2 separate regions of the Homo sapiens genome follow, and region 1 is linked to region 2. The links come from fine-mapping of genetic effects on gene expression. Tissue or cell type: whole blood. Region 2 holds a variant in brackets; the other region holds the start of a gene. All regions are shown on one strand. Distances are from middle to middle.

Evidence for each region.
Region 1: it holds the start of LINGO2, and the variant in region 2 is fine-mapped to the expression of LINGO2 in whole blood (TOPMed, PIP above 0.99). The same link has a PIP of 0.9 or more in blood mononuclear cells.

Annotation. Positions count from the first base shown.
Region 1 is chr9:29,209,465-29,218,157 of GRCh38, reverse strand. It overlaps LINGO2 (leucine rich repeat and Ig domain containing 2), which reads left to right and starts at 4,557. Exons shown (of 7, transcript NM_001258282.3): 1 at 4,557-5,236. RefSeq lists a silencer at 5,917-5,966.
Region 2 is chr9:29,316,007-29,324,699 of GRCh38, reverse strand. It overlaps the pseudogene PDK1P1. Among named protein-coding and RNA genes, the nearest start is that of LINGO2, 110 kb to the right of the region's middle. RefSeq lists an enhancer at 2,255-2,344. The variant T/C (reference allele first, on the strand shown) is at 4,324.

The sequences.
Region 1 (8,693 bases), 110 kb after region 2:
ATCTTAATCTTGGCCTTCCAAGAACTGTGAAAAATGTTTCTCACAGAACTCCAGAACTGTGAGAAATACATTCCTACTATTTAAGCTACCCATGCGGTGGTATTTTGTTACAGTAGTCTGAACTAAGAAACCCCTTTTTGCTTCTTTCCCTCAAGGTCTCTCCCTGGCAGGAGTAAATGAGCAAATGTATTGCAGGCCAGGTTATTTCACAACTTTCACCTACCCTTTTTAAAAACAACAACAACAACAGCAACAAACATCTTTTTTAAGTAAAAGGCGGAGATACATCTGTTATACTTTTCTTTCCATGCAACCCCTCAAAGGCACTCTTTTATTTTATAAGGTAAAACTTACACACGGTTCCAAAATCAAAAGAACATAAAAAGTCTAACCTCTACCTTTGATACCATCTGCCCACTTACACCATGACCCCAACCAATTTTATTAATTTTTGGAGACAACACCTTGCTTCACCTTGCAATTTTCACCTAAAAATATCATGGAGACCTTTTTATACCAATTAAGGAGAATTTCCTCATTATTTTACATAGCAGCTTAATCTTCCATGATATGGATATTTTGTATTTGTACTGTAATGATCCAAGGTATAAAAGATGTTTTATAATATGAGCTGTTGAAATTGACAACTATAACACATTTCTATGGCATGTTCCTATGTCATTCTGTATTCAGTGTTGTCTGTGTTCTGAGGCTTTTATTTTTATTAGTTTTAAAATTGTGGCAATTAGCCAACATGAGATCTGTCCTCTTAATACATTTTTAAGTGTATAATACAGTATGGTTAATTATAGGCACATTATTGTACAATAGATCTCTAGAATTTATTCATCTTACACAACTGAGATTTTATAATAGCCTCCTCTGTTTTACATAAGAGTATCAACATGGAAGTAAACAATAAAAAGTTTTCTATATCCATAAAATTCCCAATGGCCTGACTCCCCTCTCTGAAAGGAAACCCATAACTCAGCATTTGGCATTCCCATGAAAATAATGCCAAGAAGACACTCTCCTATTTTAACCCAATAAGAGAAGTAAACTGGTCCTGTGTTTTGATACTCAAATAGATATTGACTCGATTGCATGAGAGGTAAGGAACTCATTTTTAAATTTGCCTCTTTTTAGCATTAACAACATATAAATTCCTTTTAGCCTTGAATAATTGAAAATGTGGGGACCTGGCTATTTGAACAGAGCAAAATGATGAATAGTGCAGGCTTCAGAGTCAGAAAGATACTGTGTAGGTTCCATACTTAATTGTGACAAAACAGATTTGTCACCTTAGGTAAATTTGCATAAGCCTCAATCTCCCTGTAATTTGAGGACATAAAATTTAGGTAAGCAGGTTGTAAACAGGATCAACTGATATAATGTACATAAATCACATTACATAGTCATTAAGTCATTACTCAATACATGGTCGCTTTCATCATCATCATCATCATCATATACATCTATTTTATTGTGTACTAGATTCTGTATAGATTCTGGGGAACAACAATGTAAATGACAAGATCCGTGCTCTCAGAGCTCACAGTACAGTAGCAAAGGCATACCAGTAAAGAAAGAATAGCTTTTATCTATGAAAAGACAGTACACCAATAGACTGAATGCTATGCTCTAGAGAAGTAAAAGGTGTTCTGAAAATGGCAGTTTGTAGAGAAATGATCTTAAGGAGGGAAAAGGATCAAGATGTTTCCATTGGAAGAGATATCATATATTTCAAATTCAATTATCAGAAAACATAAATACATAGACAACACTGGAATAATGCTGTAGTTATTTTAATTTGGTGGTGAAATCAGATTCTTGGATCTGACAGTATCTTTGAGTCTCAATAGTTTCTTTTCAATTCCATAGATAGACCTAAGGGTAGCGGGAATGGGGTACATCCTCTGATCCTGAGGTTTGCTCTCCTTGTTTGTTAAATAATTTCCCCCATAAAAGCAAAATGTAAAAGGCGAGGGGGAAAAGGGTGATCCTTATCCTCTTCCATTTTTTGAACAGGATCCATAAATCTACAGGTTTTTATTATTTTTTTTGAGGGTGCTTAAATGTCAAGAATATTATGCTATGGATTACCACTACTGCATACACATCGCATACATCAAAAACTCAAAGCAAGTAAAAAGACTTCGCCATGGCTGGTACAAGACTTTCCACAACATTTCCTACCACTGTAAGGCACCCTTCACGTATTAAAGTTAATGAATATGTAAATAACCTATGTTTACTTTAAACAGAAACTTCAGTTGCAGACAGTGGCCTGCATACCAACAGCAACCAAGAAAGGAATTTGAAGTCACAACCTTTTTGGAGAGGAGTCGCTCTAAATTCTGAATTTTCTTGAACCAAGTGAGTCTCTTCATTACAGCTCTGCAATTCATGCCTAATAGTCTGCAGAATATTTTATTGGTAATTGATAGGCTTATACAATCAGAAATCATAAGTTAAAGATGGCCTTTTGTTGGAAATAGTTTATTATAATTCTTATTCCCACTTCATTATCAGGAACAGTCATTTATTAATTAGGAATAAGAATTAGAACTCGAAGAGGCATCAAATATTGCGGCACGCAGACAATGTATAGATTCATACCAGGTTCCAAAATACTGCCGAACATCCTCCTCTTGAAAGGCTGCAAAAGAGTCACTGTCGAAGATACATTTTAGGACATCAAACCTAAAAACTCAATCCTGGCAAACTAATACACACGCAAACAAAATGCCTCTTTTTATTCCTTAGCACCTCATCACCGATTTCATTATTCACTTCTTCAGGCAAGCTGCGCGGGTTAGCTTCAAGCTCTTCCCTTAATTGCACCAGAAGTTAAGTCTGGGCGTTGGACATACACACTCTAAATCCTTACGCGTGGGTCTGTCTGTGAACAGCCCGGAGCAGCGGAGCAAGTTAGTGGGAGGGTATCGCCAACTGTCTGCTCGCTCCAAGTGGCAGCCTTCATGGATCCATCACCCCTAAACCCACAGCCCCTGTCACTGCCTCTGCACTGAGTCGGCTCAAACAGAATCCAAAGCAGGTTCATCCCTGAAATTCAGACTTGCGCCTGAAGTTACCGGTCCGGAGCCCCTGGGAGCCGCAACGCTCACTGTGGAATGCTCTGGATCGATTTCAGAGCTGTGAGTAGCGCTGCTAGAGGTCATCCTACAAGTTTCATCTTTTGTATTAAATCTTCACTTCTGCGCTCTGCGACTCCACGTTTGCCGCTCAGGAACTCGGTTCCCGGCAAAGTCAACCGCCTTCCAATTTGGAGAGGGACAGTCAAGAACTCCCTTGATTTTGAGGAGATTCTCGATGGAGACGGCGGCGGTGGGTGGCGGAGCGGAGCATCCAGCGCCAGAGCAAAGGAACCTGGTGCCATCTCCAAGCTGGGCAACTTTGCGTTTTCCGCTAGCAGGTCCGAAGCCATAGATATTCGCGAAGCCCCAGAGGGCAGAAATCCTCAGCAATCCTCTGTCTCACAGTTGAAAAGGCAGAGTAGCGCTCTGTTGCAATAGAAACTACGCGGAGCACAAATGCAAGCTTTGGTTAAAAAAAGCACAAAAAACAAAAAAACAACGGGCAAAAGTTTACTCTCTGTAAGCAATTAATTCCTGCAGCCCATTCCGGGTAAAACAAACTCCTCTTGGGAAGCTCCTTTCGTGGGAGTTGTGGATGACACGGGGGCGCTTCTGAGAGCGAAGTCTCTCCTGCCTGGGACGCCCCAGCGGTGTAGCACCCAGTGATCCCTCCCGACCGTCGAGGGAAGAAAAAGAAGTTGGGACAGGAGCTAGCCAGAGACCCGGACAGCTACTCCTGGTGCAAAACCTTGGAAATGGCTGCTAAAGGGGTTGGGTCTCCAGACTCCTAATCCCTCCCCTTTCTCCAGCTGAGCCGTTCACCTGCTACCGTCCAGTTTACAATATAAGCGTAGCACCTAAATTAACCCAGTTCCAAAAGCTAGGCACTACAATTCCCTAAGAAATTCATTTTCAAAACATCTAAGCGACTTTCGGGAGCTCCTTGGGGGAAATGTTACGAAGGGAGTGGGCAGGTAAAGACGGGATGCGAGGGGATTATGTTCACGAAGCGATGTGTAGGCTCCTCTATTCGAAGGACCTCGGGGAGCCCCTCAGCTCCCAGGAGAGCTGCTGCAGCCACTTCAATTCTCCACTACAGAAGGGGCGGAGGTGGCCCCTGGAGGGTGGCGATGGGAACGGGGCTCATCTTTAGTCTGGTGGCCTCTCGCTGGGTGTCGAGGGGGTGTAACTGGCTTCAAGAAAAGAGCTAGGGAGTTGAAATGCCAGACAGGGCAGAGAACGGAGAGGTGGCCCAACGGACTTAACGGCGTGCGGCGAGGAACTGCCTGCCGGCAATCCGCTAACTAGTGAGGATTGATTGACTCTTTCTGTCATCAGCATCCTTGGAACCCCTACCCCTCCTCAGGACTCCCGACTTTTCGCTCGCCACTGGCCGGGGGCCGCGGGCGCAGGGCTGGGCGTGCGTGTGTAGCTGCGCGCGCGCGGGTGTGCGCGCCTGTGTGTGTGCGCAGCCCGAGCTCTGAGCCCGGCTGCCAAGCCCCAGCCGGCTATCCTGCGTCCCGCCTTGCAGCCGCCTCCTCAAAGCCTCCTCACCTGGCGCCGCCGCCCGCCGCCCGCCCAGCCCCGCACCGGCGCTGCCTCCCCTGAAAGTTTCCCCAGCGTAGACACCTTCGCGCTGCAGCAGCCCAGGGAGACGGTGTTCCGAAGCTGTGCCTTGGAGTGGCTCTTCTTACACCTTTCCGCCTCATCCCCACCTAATTCGGGCAGGGAGTAGAAATTTTTCCAAATTAAGGGGAGAAAGGGGGGAGGGGCATTATCGAGAGAAAGCAAGAGGAGCGGCCGCAACTGAGAATATCCTGCCTGATGCCAGGGAATTGACTGACGTGTCTGTGGGGTTACGGAAGAAAACTGAATAGGCAGCCAAGTTGGCCCAGGAGGGGCTGGGAGGCTTCCGGGTGCCGGGAAGGTGGTCCCGGTCTCCATTTCCACTGGTACGAAGGCTTGGAGGCGCCTCTATGGTGAGGGCTTTTGAACCGCCATCCCCTCCTGATCCCTTGGAAAGGAGGAGCCTTCAGAGCTGAGGAGGGGGAAGTCCAGGAAAAGCCCCTGGACTTGTGTGCGTCGCATCCTTGGCTTGGGATTTTAAGGACACGAAGGAGAATTAACAGCGCCTCAAGGTAAGAGGCAGCAAAGCTGCTGCTTGAATTGCCAGAGACAATAACTTAAAATAGATGTTGGGGATGGGGTGGGGGTTAAGTCAAGTTAGGAGGATCTCTCCGGGCGTCGCTACGCGATCGCACGACCCGCCTGGCAAGTCAGGGAGTAGCCGGTGCGGCGCTGCCCAGCTGCGAGGCAGGAAGCCAGAGGAGTGTCCTGTCCTCACACTTTCTGAAACCTATTGGAAAACGATTTCGGACTGGGTTCTCTGTGGAGGTTGATATACAGCGTGGATTTGGGTTTTGGGTTTTCGTTTTTTTACCAGAGAGGTTTTTTTTTTAAATTTTTATTAGCACCGCAGACCCACCCCCAATTGCCATAGAGAGCTGTGGGCACCGGTGAACGCAACTAGGACGCGGTGGCAGGTGAGCCTGGCGCAGGTGGGCAGGTGGGGGCGGCGGCGGCACCCGGCCTGCGGACTCGGGGGCGCGCGAAGCCCACGCTGCCGCTTGGCCGGCTCCCTGCAACCGGCGTCGGAACCTGGGCGCCGCAGGTCGCCTGCTGTTCCCTTCGCCTCCGCTAGAGGCTCCCAGCGGGCGCCGCGGAGCGGGTGGGTGTGGGGGCGCCAGGAGGCGGCGGGGTGAGCGCGGAGAGCCAGCGTGCTCGCGGGGTGGCGGAGCCCGCGCGGCAGGGGCGGGGGACGTGAGCGGCAGTCCCGGCGCGCTTCCGAGCTCCGCACCGCGCCGCGGGGACGCAGGTCCGAACCCGGCTGAGCTCTGGAAAGCTGTGCCTTGAACTGGAGCCACTTCGGGGATGAGATCCTGACCCGCACCCTGAGGGCAGCCCCGGGAGGTAATGCCCTCTTTCTCCTCCACTCTCCTTTCGCCTCTTGGTTCTCTGTAAATTCTCAGTCAGATACTCAGGGTGGGAGGGAGTGAAGGGTGAGAGAGAGTCTATAGGGTCTGTATCTAAAAAAGGTGCCTTTCAGTGTTGCTCCGTGGTGCTCTGTTGTATGTGTATTCGAACTAATGCCCAATTTCCCCCGCCTCCCTTGAATATTTGGCTGCTTTAAGGGAAGTTTTTTGCGGAGAACGCTGGGTGGTTGGTCTGGGCCAGGCTGCTCCGAGGTGAGCTAGGGGACCTGCTGTGCCCGCTTTGAGCCGCAGTAGACTGGAGTGCAAGACTCCAGGGATGGGGTGTGGTGGAGAAAACGAGTACCACACCCTCTTCTTTTCCTCTTCACCTGCTGGTGAAGTCTCCCCATTCAGCATTTTGCTGATTTCCTTTTCCGAGGGATTGGCTCAGAGAACTGAGGAAAGCTGCTGAAATACTTGGAGGGAGGGAGGGAGAGAGAGAGAGAGAAGAGAAGAGAAGAGAAGAGAAGGATGAGAAGGAAGTCATGGTCTGAGCATCAGAAGAGGAAGGAGGGCGAAGTTAAGCTTGTGTGTTTGAGGTGGGGGAGTGAGTGCTGGGAAATGGCCTTGGAGTTCAGTTTATTTGATGAAGTCAGATTCACTTCACATTTCACACTTTGACATAATCCAGTTTGCTGAAGCCACCTAACAGATATTATCTGTGCTGTGTACTGCCTTGGGCTCAGTGGGCACTGAATATGTTTGATGAGTGTGTCTAAGCAATAGATAAATAAATAAATGAAAGAGTGCTTATTGTGTTTGCTTGGTGTGATTACCCCCGTGTCTGTCAGCCGGTAATGTATGTATTTTTCAGCGTGCTGTGCTGTGTTTGTGCATACCATATGTGGTCATTTTACACTCAGTAATGCAGTTTCAGGGTCTTGGAAAGGTGGCTCTTAACAAAGACGAATATTTAGAATAATACTAAAGGAAGACCAAAAATTACCATCGGGTGTGGAATATTCCAGGAATACTGAATAGAAGCTGAGATCCATCATTGGTGAAAATATTGGGCCACATACTGAAAGGGCAAAAAATATTTTTCAGAAATTAGAAGCAGTGGTTAACATTTTAAAAGAAGGAGATGTTCTTTAGGGTTCTGTCACCATCACCCAGTAGCATGCGTTACTCCCAATACAGTTGGAGTGTGAGGAAGAAAAAAAAATGTACTTCCTGTTCAAAACCAGTAAAATGTTTTGAGATCTGCCAGGTATTTCACCTTAAGAATTTAAATGGAATGGATTGCCTATTGATGGCAGAAGTGGTTTAGTTATGTAAGGCATCTATTATTTTTGATTAAGGTACATATATGTTAATATTTTTATATAATTTTACTGTAGTGGGAATGGAAGCAGGACAATTTATTGATGTTTTTCATTGCTGAATAACACATAGCATTATCTCAGGGAAGATTTATATAAAGTTTGTCATTCATGTATTATAGTGGATGATGCTCTGTGTGGAAGGCAAGAATATATATCTTGATGAAGTCCCAAAAAGGATCGTTTGTGTTCTTAAAATACAGTATTTTAGAAATTTTTATGGTGTGAAAAAGTGATACTCATCTGAATATAGGTACAACTTATATATACACTAATCATTTATTTGTTGAATTAAATTAACAAAGACATACATATTTAGGGCTCAAATGTATTTCTGAAAGACACCTCTAAAACCAAAGGAAGATCTGCTATTAAGACTCTGTGTATATGATGTATAAGGGAAGTTTTCTTTCTTGACATTTAATCTAATTAAACTGGTGAGGCTGGTTTGTAATCTCGAGTCAGTTTTAGGACTCCATCTCTAAAGATGCTTTCCTCTCTAATAAATGTGATTTTAAAAGAGACCAAACATTAAAATGTTCCACAGCTGTCATGGACCAGAAAACCATTTGAGTCCTCTGCAACTTCATGTCAAGAATAAGAAGTGATAGGAAGTTGTCACAAATTAATTGGCTTGATACTTCAATTAAAAACTGATTATGATCTGGCTCTGGTAGTCATTATGGTTGATTTCGTTTGGTCTCTAGATATTCTGTGAAAGGACTCTAGGTGGAAATGTTTTCCTGTAGTACAAGGAGAGGAGGTCACTATATGCAAAGAGGTTTGTCAGTTACTGATTCTCCAATTTGGTTGTGTTGTATCCTTAAGGAAGCATGTTAGATTGAAAAAAAATCCATTTTCTCAATTTATGTAAATATTTCTCTTTGTCATAGCCCTCAACCAACCTCTGAGTACTGTATTTATAATTTTGTTGAAATATGTCACCAAGCCTCTTCCCTTTATGGTTTAGGGGCTACTTTGATGTTAATAACTTTAAAAACTATTCAAGCATAAAATACCGTATTTCCTGAAAGAAAATAAATTAAATTTAAAAAGGGTTTGGGGTAAGGAAATTAAGGGAGAATATGAGGGAAAGGTTAAATTCCAGGTATCAGGCTTACCCATCTAATGGCATATACTTCTGTGATTTTTCTGTTATGCTTCTAAAGAAATCCTTCCTTCCTTCCTTCCTTTTCTTCTTCCCTCTTTTTCCTTTAAAATATTTCCTTCAGAATTAAATC
Region 2 (8,693 bases):
TTTATGTTAGCTACACATTTAAAATAAATGTTGTGAATTGATAAATGAATAAATGTATCTTTCAACCTGCAGGGAAGGAAGTTACTCTCTAATCTCTATGACTAGCCTGCAATAGTATGGCCAGATGAATAAAGTAAAGGTAATATCTTACCCACAGGCTAAAGATATTTTCATTGCTATAATTCCCCAAACTTTATTGTGCACCCATTAAATGAACCTGAATTTCAAAACCCATCTTTGCCTCAGGGTAAAAGCTAGTATCACAATAGTACTTACACAAAGTACAAGAATTCCAGCAGTTTTAAAAAACACTAGTCTAAAAAATAGAGAGTCAAACTGTCTTGCTTCTAATGCCAGCTCTGTCACATGCTAAATGATCTGGGGCAAGGTGCTAGGTATCTCTGTAATTCTCATCAGTAATGTGAGAAAATAATATTAGTAATGACTTCATAGGATTACTAAAAGATTAAATGTTAAGTACATACTAGGTATTCTGAACATATTATCTATAAATATTGTTATTTCACTTTAAACCCTGCAGAAATTATAGAGGTTGTTTCACATATTTACAAAAACAAGATTCTCACAAGCACTTCACAGACTACACCCTCCCTCCCTTTCCTCTGTGAATACCTATGTTAAACCACACTTTAGGTTTTCATCAAGAGCACCAGAATGCTCTTGATGATGCCTACCAGAGGTACTCCATTGTCTGCTAATGCCTAGACCAAGGATGCTAATGTCCAATGTTTGCTTATTTCAATATTAAGGGTGTTAATGACCTTCATTTATGAATCCCAAAACACTTTTTTTTTCTGAGACGGAGTCTCGCTCTGTCGCCCATGCTGGAGTGCAGTGGCGCGATCTCGGCTCACTGCAAGCTCTGCCTCCAGGGTTCACGCCATTCTCTTGCATCAGCCTCCGAGTAGCTGGGAATACAGGCACCCGCCATCACACCCGGCTAAGTTTTTGTATTTTCAGTAGAGACGGGGTTTCACCGTGTTAGCCAGGATGGTCTCGATCTCCTGACCTAGTGATCCGCCCGCCTCGGCCTCCCAAAGTGCTGGTATTACAGGCGTGATCCACCGCGCCCTGCCCCAAAACACTTTTTAATCTTTGGACAAAGGTCTAGCGCAGTTGTCTTTCAGACTAGAAGTCACGAATGTTGAGGCTATTCATATCTTACACTATCATTTTCTCCCAGGGAAGTCCAACTATAAGACATTTGATGTTCTTATTCACTTTTCTTAGTCCTTTATCCTAAAGTTTCAAACATTAACTCGTGAATCATGACTAGGAAGTATTTGAGAAAGAGATAATATTCTATGAGTATATTCTCTGCATTGGTTGGATTTCATCCATCGACCACGAAGCAAACATGCTTCAATTCTCTCTCTTCTTAGGAATTGTTTCCCTATACTCCCACATCCCAGAGTTATGCTCAGTAACTCATGCAGATAATAACTTTGAAATCTCCCCCACTACCTGTTCTTCAGTATTAGAGACTGAATGTTTGTGTCCCCCCACCAAAATTTATATGTTGAGACCCTAACCCTCAGTGTGGATGTATTTAGAAATGAGGCCTCTAAGATAATCATTAAGGTTAAGTGAGGTCATAATGGTGGGGCCCTGATCAAATAGGATTAGTTTCTTTATAAAAGTAAACAACAGAGTTTTCTCTCTCTTTACCTGCATACCCACCAAGAAAAGGCTATGTGAGAACATAGTGGGAATGCAGATGTCTGCAAGCCAGGAAGAGAGAGCTCTCCCCAGAGGCCAACCCTGTTGGACTTTGATTTGGAACTTTTAACCTCCAGAACTACGAGAAGATGAGTTTCTATTGTTGAAGCCATTCAGTCTATGGTAATTTGCTATGATAGCCCCAACTGACGAATACATCCATTCAGATATGGTAAAATTTGTCACAATTTTGGGGTAGACACAGCTCAATCTCAGTAATGGATGAGTCATGTGCCAATGACTCAATAAAATAGGAGCAGCTGAGATTAGGAGCAGAACATTGAGTTGGGAAAGGAGAGAGAAGCTTGGAAGAACTTAGAAATGCTTATTAGGGGCTCTTAGGGACGTGAGAAAAAAAAATGATGATTTGTAATGGCTGAAACTACTTACTACCATATCCTGAAGGTAAACACAATGTTCATAATATATAAACTGCCCATGTTTTAGAGAAAAAAAGTGGTTAGTAACCAAGTGCTGAGGTGGAGTTGAAGTCTGCAAAATACCACATGCTCTGAGCAGCAACTTGACTCAGAAGTTCCACCTAGAAACCGAAACCAAGTATGTTGCTTTCTCAAAGATAGACAAATATAAATGACCTCAAAAAGGATGACTTTATGCCAGTGAAACAGACTGTCCACTTTTATCAACTGTTTCCAACTATCCTATTAAGATCATATATGGGTAGTCAAGTGTTCTACAAAAAGAAATTAAGTTTGACAAACTTTCCATACTACTATATTTCCAAATTAAAGATTCATTTCCTGATAAATTAACTAGGACACAAATGCAAGTTTGAGAAAATTACTTTGGAGCAGATATGGATGTGAATTTATTCTCTTGAGTAATATTTATCAACTCATCTTTAAAATTGGTCATGATCCTGCATGTCAATAGTGTAAACTTTATAGTTCACACTATAGTTTACAGCAATTAAAAGGCATTAATATTTACTCTTCATGATATTCCTAGGGGAATTCTACAATAATCCCATTGAGGCTATTTTCTATACCTAAAGGTTATTTATCTATTTGATTTACAAATGGATACTCTTATATAGCTTCAGGCTTTATAACATTTACATCATTGGATAAAAACCCAAAGAAAAACGCAGCATCAATGACAGCAGCACATGGTACAATTTTAGATTTTGAAATGATCTATCAGTTAAGAGGCGTTGATTTATAAGCAACAGAAAACTCAAGCACAAAGTGGCTTAAAAATTAAGGGCATTAATTGGCCTAGGTAAATAAAAGTAAAGAGGCCAACCTTTGCACTTAATTTACTTGAAGGACCACAGAATATCATCAAGAGATAGCTTTTCTATAGCACTCTGCTTTACCTTCAGTAATATTACCATTATTCCCAAACTGCCATTTCTTTCAGTTACAAGTTGAAAAGTTATACATTTCTTCTTCTTTTTTTTTTTTACATCAATTAGGTAAGAAAGGCTCACTTCCAGAAACTTCCTGATAAGCCAGAAGATCCCTATTTTCCATCACATCATAACAAATATTTTATTTAGTCTTGTTGGGCCAAACTGAGTGAAGAATGACAAATTTTTCCCATTTTTTAGATTACTGCCATATGGAAAACATTTTGTAAAATATTTTGTTTCCGTTTCAATATATTCATTTAAAAATGTCGTAGTGCTAGAAATTAATGATGTTTAAGTATGAATTATGCATTATTGATTATGCAGAACATTTTTTTCTATCCCCTCCTTTAAAATGTTGCCACATTCATTAGCTGTCCAAGTTTTAAAAAATCACATGGTATCCATTTATTATTCTTCAATACATTTTTATATCTGCAATGGATTAATCAGGTACTGGTGAATATAATAACTTGAGAAGAATTTAAACATTGAAATGTTTCAGGGAGCACAGTGATTTAAAACCAACCAGGAGAAAAATTCCCTCAAAATATTGTTTTATATAATTTTCTGTCTATTACCAGAGAGCAAAATAAAAACAGTAAACAGCTTGTAAAGAAAAATAGAAAATATTTCTCTTTTGCTGCTCCTTTGAAACCACCATTATTATTAGTGTTCAGGTAAAGAAAGTAACACTTTAATTTTGGGAATGGTGGAATCCTTCATAAGTAAAATAATAAACTTTATCTCAGTTGTATGACATCTTATTTAGAAAAGAAGATTTCTTCAGTTCAAAGTATTATAAAAAGGTTCATTTTTGCATGAAAAGTGAAATTTAAAGTTAAAAAATTAGCAATTTGAACTAACAAATCACCAATTAGCTCATTTTAGTATCTTTAACAAATCCATAATGATGGAAAAATAGAAAAGATGTTATTTTTCCAAAAATTGTTCAGATTAGCTATGAATTACTATGCAAACCATAAAGCACTCTGAGCCTTAGAGTCTTCACCTATAAAATGAGGGAACATGATTAAATGCCCTTTAACCTCCCTTCCAATCTACCAATTTAGGTAGTAGCATTACCATTTTAAATAATCCTTTAAAGAGTGAGGGTTTCACCTCAAAGTATTTTCTAAATATATGAAATTCCCCTTTTAAGTTGCAAACCTTTGCTATCAACATTTACAAGAAATGCATTATTACTTTCC[T/C]GTCACACTAAAAGAGTGTGAGGTATCACCCACAACACCGTCCCCTGACTTCACAGCTCTGCCTGTAAAACATAGCACCAAATAGAACAGATCAGCACACATAGGCTTCTGTACCTTGGCTCAATTATCTGTAATTTTGAGACAAGCTTTGCTTCTCAAAATGAGGAAGATAGAAACGTTCCTGTCTATCTTTCACTGTTTTGAAGACCAAAAGAGATTACCATATCGATGCAAATGATTATCTTTGTGATGAACAATTTTGACTTTTCCTGATGAAAAGATCTAGAGACTATATAACATATATCTTCTTTAAGGGCACTTATACATTTATGATTTAAATCTTTCAGTTTACTGATTATTCTGTAGTCATTTTGTTTCTTTTCTAACTTGCTGCTTTGTCCTCTAATTGCATCAGCCTGGGATACAGTTTGTTTCTCCCCAAGAGTCTAGAAACCTGACCTTTCAAAAAGTGAAAGTGAAAACCTATAGATCTCTCTGTTACTTTAGCAAATTTGGTATTGCCATTAATTTTAAAACAATGGCTTCCTAGAGCAGGAAAACTTTTTTGTTGTTGTTTTTTCTTGAGATTCCTCCACTCCACTCCAGCCCTAGAAATTCTGATTGAGTATATCTGGGCAGGATAAAGGAAATTTCTGTTTCTCAAAACTCCCTAGTTAATTCTGAAATTGGTCAGTTTGGGAACCACTACTTTGTTCTCTGTTTTAGGCCTACTATAACATTTTCCTCCGACATTAATCACAACACATTCAGAGTAGATTTTCAGAAATCTGTAGAGAACTACTGTAACAATCTTTTTCAGGAAAATTTTAAAATGGTATATTAACTGCAGAGCTAAGACAGTTCAGGTAGACACTGAAAAGTGGGTGGCTGTTCCTCATGGGAAAATTGTTTTCCACTTTACTTGTAATCATTCACTGGTAAACACAAAGACTATCTTATAACAATTGTCATTACTAACTATAACATGAAAGTTCTCCAAATAACAAAAAGATGGCTGAGTAGTTAATTGGTATTATTGGGAAAATGTGTCTCGTAGACTAAATAAAAGCATAAAATAAACTGCTTTCTATAGAATTTCAAACTTTTCTCATGCCTCTGGAGTTTACCATAAACAGGACAGAAAAGTTAACCAAAAATACTATTATTGAAAAATAAGCTCAGTTAGCTGCAAGAATATAAGTTAAAAAAATACGTATAATTTTCTCTTTGAGGAGTTTTAAGACATGCATAGATTTCAAATTCCATTTATTATACCCAGAATAACTAATTATGAAAATGATATTTAAAATATTTGGTATCAAGTATGGACACCACCCCTTCCAAACTTAATATAAAACCCACATTTTTTTTCTTAGGTGTCCTAGATGTCTGTAGCCACTGAAGAATGTTTTTATACCTCTTTGTTGTCTGCTTGGGCTGCAAGCATAAGCCTCATGGTTGATATTGTCCTGCATCTACGCAGCTGTCTTATATAATGAGGAGTCTAATGTGGACAAATACATCTGCCACATAACCCTCTAGGAGACATAGCTTTGGTTCTCATTGAAATATTATACATCAAAGCATTCGTTGGTTAATCCATAATTCAAACCAGCCAGGAGTGCTACTCCAGATATTTCTGCAGGAATCTACATGAATACATGTGGTTGAAGAATCTGTGATTTTCCTTCAGAGGCACAACACTTCAACAAACATTCATATGTGTCCAATCCTAACTACCTGCTATGACATGAACTTGGATAGAGGGTTAAACACATTTTGTCAGTATAGTGTCCCATGATTGCTCTCATGTCACTTAAAAAGTTCAAACTCCCTATGAGAAAGACAAGTGGTACAAAAACCACTTGGATTAGCTGTTCTGGTGATTTGCACTTAGTTCTCCAACTTTAATTTTAGGAGAAATAATACAAAACAAATTGCACAGATCGTTAGCATTTTCCTAGCCATCTTTTAATAATTTTAGCTAACTTGCAATTTATATTAAAGCTTCCAAAGCATTTTGATTGGATGGAATTATCTTGTTTTTGCCACCATAGAATAAAGAATAGCAAGTTGAGTAACCTTACAATCAAAATGCAACTCATATCGAAATATCCAAAATGTAGTTAACATTCTGGCTGGTGGTGGGAATATCCCCAAAGCAATCCTGTATATATTTTATTTTTTTAATTGACAAACACAATTGCATTGCATATTTCTCATGTACAACATTTAATCACATTCTGAGCTATGCCAATGTCCTTGTGTCTTACAGATCCTTATCACCATGTCTATGAAAAAAATAAAGACCATTAGCACCCTCAGCATTTTCGTCCTTAAAAATTAAGCAACTTCTGAAGACTTCTAATATTCCAGCTCTGTATCAGTTGAGCTGATGATGATGTTCTGAGATTATCAGAAGGAGACTATTTCTTTAATTATATTTGCTATTCCCATGGCCAACCCTGGCCTGAGATATGTGAATGAGGTCTTCTCAACCCCTCTCCCAGATCCAAAAGTTGGCAAGAAGCATGTGTAAAAGTCAAAAGGCCATATATTTCATTGAGCAGAGGGCAATTACAAGGACCCAAATGAGTCCTCAGGGTCACAGCCATTGCTGGGGGAATAAAGATTCCGAAGGTGCCACTGGGGCTTGGTGCTGAGATCCCTGAAGCTGCCATCCCAGCCCTCAGTGAACCCTACACCAGGAGCCCAAGCCACCTGCAATTGGTTGCCACCCTTCTTTGAACCAATAATGTCTCCAGAAGATGAGTTTATGCTGAAATATTTTAGCCTGAGCTATAAGCCCTGTTTTTAGAGTCAGGAATTAGGTTTACCAGAAAGGATCCCCAAATGAAAACTAGGACTATTACCAAACTTAATGGAGTGGATGAGAGGGAATAAAATGATTTCTGCCAAAAATGGGTTATTGGTTTATGATTGAGCTGAACCTGGTATGGTATACTCAGGAATTTTCTCCTGCCAGTGCCTACCAACATGCTTTGTAATACCTCGGTTGTCTATCGTTGAACAGCATCTTGACCAGACCTCCTATCTCATCTCTTTCTACATCCAGTGAACTCTAAAACAAAAATTCTGCTTCAAATCTGGCTCACTGCTCTTCCCCTCTTGCTCGTCTCAGGCCCGCCTCATGGCTTGTAGACCTGCCTGTGGGGAAAGGAGTTGTAGAGTTGGTTTTACTTTCCAATTAACTTTTCTGTTCCTTCCCACCTGTCTTCTACATCCAGCATTGGGAATATGAATAGGAAGAGAGCTTTGAAGGAAGAAGGACAAAGCATATGCTATGTGTCAAATGTTTTGTTTTTGTTTTACTTTGTTTTGTTTGTTTTGTTTTTACAATGTGGCTCTCGGTGCCCTCCAACACAGTCGTCATCCAAAAGCTAACTTTCTATTTTAAGGCCCATTTGTGTGTTTTTTGGAGTGTCCCCCTTCCCTCCCTCCCTTAAGGGAGTTTTGCACTGTCCCCTTCTCTAACTTTTTGATATATTACCTACCTGATCACTTATACCCTGCTCCATCTCTTGTCCCTGGCAGAAAACTCTTAGCTTCTTTCTGCTAAATCTCACCTCATTGGCCAACCCACTTGGGTGAATTTCAAGACAGCTGCTATTCCAGGTACTATGTAGCCCTTAGGACCTCACACTTCCTTTACTACCAAATAAAGCAATTATAGACATTTTTGTTGCTGGATTTCCTTGCCTTATCCTGCAAAAGTAAGACTACTCCAGCCAATCTTTTACCTTTGAAACTACCTAGGCAAAATTCAACCACTAACTTCTAAATTAAAATTAAATTAAATTAAATTAAAACTTAAAATTCTAAATGTTGGGGAATAAGAAGTCTCTTGCATTAATCACCAGTTGCAACATAGTAAGGACTAGGAAATTACAATTTAACAAGCATCTAGTCCAAAAATAGAATACCTGTACACCTTCTTGCAGTCAGCTGAATTATTTGGAGTAATTTTAGGGGGCTCCTTCACTAAGCTTTATTTGGGAAGAAAGAGGGTACACCTTTCTTTCTCTAGTCAGAAGGAAGGGGAAATCCCACAACTTCTTCCTCCTATCTATGAGTTTCCTCCAAAGAAGGTTTTCTCAAAAATCTCCAGTCTTCTGTACATATTGTGTGGAGATAGGCAGTGAGAGCAGCTGCACTGGCTATATCAGACTTTAAGATGTTCATGATACACATTCTCAGATTAAAAGTTTCAGGCTAAATTCTGAGACACCAGGAATTTAATAAATAAGCAGAATTAGGGATACATTTTCCTAATTCATTCTGTCACCCACTTAGTACTGCAGCTGAGGCAGAGAACTGACTGTTCTTTCCCCTATCTTGCCCAATTGTCT